2 separate regions of the Homo sapiens genome follow, and region 2 is linked to region 1. Evidence: fine-mapped expression QTL. Tissue or cell type: whole blood. Region 1 holds a variant in brackets; the other region holds the start of a gene. All regions are shown on one strand. Distances are from middle to middle.

Evidence for each region. PIP is the estimated chance that this variant, and not a neighbour inherited with it, causes the effect.
Region 2: it holds the start of PLEKHA2, and the variant in region 1 is fine-mapped to the expression of PLEKHA2 in whole blood (TOPMed, PIP above 0.99).

Annotation. Positions count from the first base shown.
Region 1 is chr8:38,972,947-38,975,622 of GRCh38, forward strand. PLEKHA2 (pleckstrin homology domain containing A2) reads left to right here. Exons shown (of 12, transcript NM_021623.2): 12 at 1-966. HTRA4 (HtrA serine peptidase 4) reads left to right here and starts at 1,282. Exons shown (of 9, transcript NM_153692.4): 1 at 1,282-1,783; 2 at 2,085-2,184. The coding sequence starts at 1,318. RefSeq lists a silencer at 1,449-1,678 and an enhancer at 1,859-1,918. The variant G/C (reference allele first, on the strand shown) is at 1,264.
Region 2 is chr8:38,900,252-38,902,932 of GRCh38, forward strand. It overlaps PLEKHA2 (pleckstrin homology domain containing A2), which reads left to right and starts at 1,095. Exons shown (of 12, transcript NM_021623.2): 1 at 1,095-1,194. LOC124901937 (a long non-coding RNA gene) reads right to left here and starts at 1,194. Exons shown (of 2, transcript XR_007060893.1): 1 at 962-1,194; 2 at 1-445. RefSeq lists an enhancer at 1-6 and silencers at 607-1,016, 1,097-1,766.

The DNA.
Region 1 (2,676 bases):
TTATTTTTAGAAACAGTGTTTCACTCTGTCACCCAGGCTGGAGTGCAGTGGCCTGATCATGGCTCACTGCAGCCTGGACCTCCTGGGCTCAAGTGATCTTCCTGCCTCACAGCCTCCCAAAGTACTCAGATTATAGGTGTGAGCCACCACGCCTGGCCACCATCTATTACTTTTGAAATCTTCAAAAGACTTGCTTACTCAATGTCAGCTGATGGTTGGTAAAAATAATTTGGCCTTTAGTGTTAAGTGAGACATCATAAGGGTATTGAGGTATACATTATGGAGATTGATGTCAGGTCAGAATATTGGAGTTATACATCTATTTCTGAGTTGAATACTCAGCTCCCACGAGAAAGAAAGTAGTTTTAAGGTCCAGCTTCTTAGTCTACTTGAAGCAAATTTTTTTTCTTTTATATTTCTGAATATAAATATACTCTTATATGGGCTAAAAAGACCCCATGAATAAATAGCAGGTTCAGTAGTTGAGGAGTGGAGTTTAGTAGGTTTGTTTTCAGTATAAATTAGATAACATGTGGAGGTCACAGCATTTTGGAAATTGAGTGTCCCCAAGTGAGCTTTGTTTATAAACTTTCAAAATGTCGGAAGTGGACAGGTTTGTTAAATCTTGTCTGCCAGCACCCTTTTCTTCCTTTGTTCCTTTTCCTCTCTGTGTTATTGCCTGCGGCAGCCAGTCCTTCATACTAGATAGAGTTCAGATAAAGCAAACGTTTGGCAAAAACATACTGTTTGACCTCCTCCCCCTCTGCTTATGAAGGGGTAGCATGATTCTGTGTTTTAAAGCAGTGATGTTTCAGCTGTGAAATGCACTCGCTGTAAGCTCTAGGCTGAGTGCATGGAAACTGTTACGCTTCTCATTTTATGTGATCTCCTAATTGGTATGTAGCAAAAATTTTCTAAAACTGTTTTGTGGCTTGTTTTGTAATAAAACCATGTGAAATACTGAAATATGGTCATGTGTTTTCCTAATACTGACCTTCTGACCATGGGTGGGTGAGCTTTCTTATCAGTCTGCCCTCATTGTCGGTTTTAGGGATTTCAGGAGGTAGGTTCCTGCTCCGGGTAGGGCTAGAGACCTTCCCCTCATTGCCTGGGGGAGAACCTGGCTCCGGGGCGCCGACGGGGGCGGGTGGTAGGGGATGTACGGGTGTGTATATGCAGAGGTATGCCAGGCTCTGCCCCTTAAAGTTTGGGGGCCGGCGGAGGCGGCGCCGTGGCCGGGAGAAAGTGTCTCTCATTTAGGAG[G/C]GTTTGCAGGTCCAGAGTAAAGTCACTGAAGAGTGGAAGCGAGGAAGGAACAGGATGATTAGACCTCAGCTGCGGACCGCGGGGCTGGGACGATGCCTCCTGCCGGGGCTGCTGCTGCTCCTGGTGCCCGTCCTCTGGGCCGGGGCTGAAAAGCTACATACCCAGCCCTCCTGCCCCGCGGTCTGCCAGCCCACGCGCTGCCCCGCGCTGCCCACCTGCGCGCTGGGGACCACGCCGGTGTTCGACCTGTGCCGCTGTTGCCGCGTCTGCCCCGCGGCCGAGCGTGAAGTCTGCGGCGGGGCGCAGGGCCAACCGTGCGCCCCGGGGCTGCAGTGCCTCCAGCCGCTGCGCCCCGGGTTCCCCAGCACCTGCGGTTGCCCGACGCTGGGAGGGGCCGTGTGCGGCAGCGACAGGCGCACCTACCCCAGCATGTGCGCGCTCCGGGCCGAAAACCGCGCCGCGCGCCGCCTGGGCAAGGTCCCGGCCGTGCCTGTGCAGTGGGGGAACTGCGGGGATACAGGTGAGCCGCGGGGGCGCGCGCCCTCGGAACACTTTCTAACTCTGGAGGAGCGTAAAGGAACAAGACCTCACTGAGACCGCACAGTTCGCGCCTGGTCCTCCTGCGTCATTTGCCTCCTGGATTCGACACCTCTGTGTTCCTGATTTCCTTTCCTCCTTAACAGGGGCTCTTTACCGGCTGCTACGTGGTTTCTCCCTCCCCATGCACCTTTTGAACACTGTCTTGCCTTTAACATTTTTCCAACTAGGATAGCAGGTCTGGTTCCCTCGAGGCGTACTCTTGAGCCAGTATTTTTTCATAGGGACCAGAAGCGCAGGCCCGCTCAGGAGGAATTACAACTTCATCGCCGCGGTGGTGGAGAAGGTGGCGCCATCGGTGGTTCACGTGCAGCTGTGGGGCAGGTAAAGGAGGAGGAGGAAGACCTCCACTGTCCCAGCTAATGGTTTCTGCGTGCCTACCTGCTCCAGACCCTTCGCAAGCGTCATTTAATCCTAAAAAACCAGTGAGGAAACTGAGACGTAAAGAGGTTGAATAACCTGTTCAAGGTCATTTAACCAAAGAGCAGAGGCACAAGGATGCTGACTTCTAAATCCCAGCTCCCCCTGCCCACTTAGGTGGCTGGTGCTTTTTCCCCCTCCTGCCACAGACAAAATTTAAGGTCAGATATAAGAGCTAGTAGGCAATTTCTTTTCTTTTTTTGAGACAAGGTCTTGCTCTGTCGCCAGGGCTGAAATGCAGTGACAGATCACGGCTCACTGCAGCTCCATCTGCTGGGCTCAAGTAATCCTCCCAACCCAGCCTCTGGAGTAACTGGGACTATAGGCAGGTGCCACCATACCCAGCTAATATTTGTATTTTTTTGTAGAGACGAGGTCTTGTTATATTGCTCAGGC
Region 2 (2,681 bases), 73 kb before region 1:
CCCGACGTGGGAGGCCGGAGTCAGAACCTGACAGACCTGCCGTTTACTAACTGGGTACCCAGGGCAAATTACTTCACAAGTCTGAGTCTCGGTTTCCTCACCGTGAACCGGACTGGTACCCATAGGTTGCGGCGTGGATCAAATGAGATAGCGCAGGGGCGGGACCCGCGCACAGCAGCTCTCTTAGTTCCTCTTGGCGAGGTTTACGTAGTAACACATGCTTGTCTGTTTCCCATTTTTTCCCAGAGCACCCTCATGCTCTGGGGGCAGGAAGGGAGTCTTCGCATCACACCGAAAAAGTCCCAACGGGCACGGTGTAGGCGCCTGTGGTCCCAGCTACTCGGGAGGCTGGGGCAGAAGGATCGCTGGACCCAGGAGGTCGAGGCTGCAGTGAGCTATGACTGCGCCACCGCACTCCAGCCTGGGCGACAGAGCCAGACCCTGTCTTGATTAAAAAATAAAATAAAATAAAGAAATTAAAGTCCTTATAACCCTGGTTAGAGCGTTCCCGCCCACTGGTCTCTTAGGGCACATTTAGGACAACCTGAAGAAGCCACTCTTCTTGGGACCCTAACCCTTACCCCAACTCCTCGGTCCCCAAAGGCTAAGGGCTCGGGATCCGAAGGAGGCCCAGCTGAGGTCGCTGGGTGGGGCTCTGGGAGGAGGAAATGGGGTTCTTGAGGGAGCTCGCGCTCCAGCTCGCCTCCTCCTGCGAGGACGCCCCCTGCCCGGACACCTGCTGCCCGAGCGAGCGTCGGGGCCGGGCCTCCCCGCGGGGCAGTCTCGGCGCGCAGGTCCCACCTGCCAGGCGCGGAACGCGGGCGGCCTCGGGCGCAGCCTCCGGGCGCCCCGCCCCCGCCTCCCCCGCGCGGCCCCGGCGCCCGGCCGCACCCCCTCCCAGCCCGCGGCGCCCCGGCACCCCTCTCCCTCCCCGGCGGGCTCCGCGGAGCATTGTACTCACATCCGGGGCTGGGTTTTGCTTTAATGCGAAACGTAATTAACCCGGAAAAAAGAGCCGAGGGACGGGAGAGAAGGAGGGGGCACTGGGGGAGACCAGAGCGAGGGGAGCGAGAGGCGCGGAGAGTTTGGCAGGCAGACCCAGAAATCCCTGGAGCGCGGCGGACCCGGCGGCCGGAGGGGCGACCCCGCCCGATGTAACGCGCCCCGCCCGAGCCCCGGCCCCTGCACGGGGGGGTAAGTTGGGCGCCCTCGCGGGCTCGGGAGTGGAGAGGCGCAGAGGGGCGCGCGGGGGCTGGCGGGGCTGGGGGTGCAGGGGGCGCCCCGGCGGAGGCCTGGCGGCCTAGGGGCGCGAGGGGCGCGCGCGCAGGGCTGAATACGCCGGTCCTAGTGGCTGACAGGCGAGGGGAGGTGGCCGCAGACCCTGGAGGCCTCCTCCAACCCTCTGGGAGAGCCCCGAGGGCAGCCCCTCCTCCAAGTGCCCCGGGTGGCCAAGGTCGCCGCCGCCAGGGGTCGGGCTGCGGGGGGTGGGGCCGCGGAGAGGGTGGGGGCGGGAGTTCTGCTGAGCTGCATTTTCTCACGTTTGCAGCAGCGAAACTTCTCTGCGGGTTCTGGCGCTGGGGCACCGACCCCGCAACGACTGCCCGGGCTGCGGGAGGGGAGGAGAGCAGAGAACGTCCCCAGGCAAGTCCCTTGGGTACGGATTGGGCCATGGAGACTCCTCTTTCACTCCCCCGACTACCTTATTAAATGACAGGCCTAGAAGGCTCCCCTAGGGACTCCTGTCCTTTCCTCTGGGTGCAGCCTGGACTTCGGGCTTCTGGAACTCCAGACAGTGAAAAGGACTGCCCTAAAATGCAGGTTCGGTGCCAGGTTGGGTGAGCCCTCGAGGGGAGCTGTCGTTCTCTCTCTCACCAACTTCTTCCTCACCTTACACGCTTCCCTTTTCTCCTCCAGTCCTAAAGACGATTTCACCAAAATTTTTTTAAAAAGAAAGAGAAAAGAAGGGTGTGGGGGGGGGTGGTGGGAAGCTAGGCCGTTTAGAAGGGAAAAGTGTCCCTGCACGCCCAGAGAGGGGCGCAGGGCCCGCTGCGGCCGGAGCACCCTCACATCTCCTCCCCGGGGCCAGCCCTGCCCCCAGGCCCTAGCCTTAGGGTTTGGCTTCCTTCCTTCTTGGTGAACGCAGGTTCAGGATGTATCTTCCCCTTCTCATTCCTTCTTCCTGCCCGCCCCCTTTCTTTCTTTAGGGCTCCAAGTGGGGTTTTCAGAGGACAGTAAACGGCAGAGAAGAGGGAGGGGAGAGCACCCCACCAGAAAGCCAGCTGTGGCTCTGGGGGCTCTGAAGGCTGAGCTGTAGATGCACTTGGGGCTGAAGTCCCAAGATTGCACTAATGGTGTTCTTAATCTATCTGACCAAGTCCCATTTTCCCTTCTTTTGTCATTTTTTTTCTTTGGTTGCGAAGCCTTCCGAAACAGCAAAGCAAAAGATCTTGAAAGAATAGAAGTTTTTGCTTTCTATTTCAGTTGCATTCAGTTGACATGTATTATACATGCAAGGCAGTGATGAACAAAACACAACCCCTGTCTTTATTTTTTCTTTTTCCTTTACCTCTGGAGGGCTGGACCCTGTCTTTGGCGAGCTTACAGGACTTGTAAGCCCCCCACTTGTTTTGAGAAGCCAGAGTAAGCTTTTAGAAAGCATCATCATCATCTCAGACATTAGC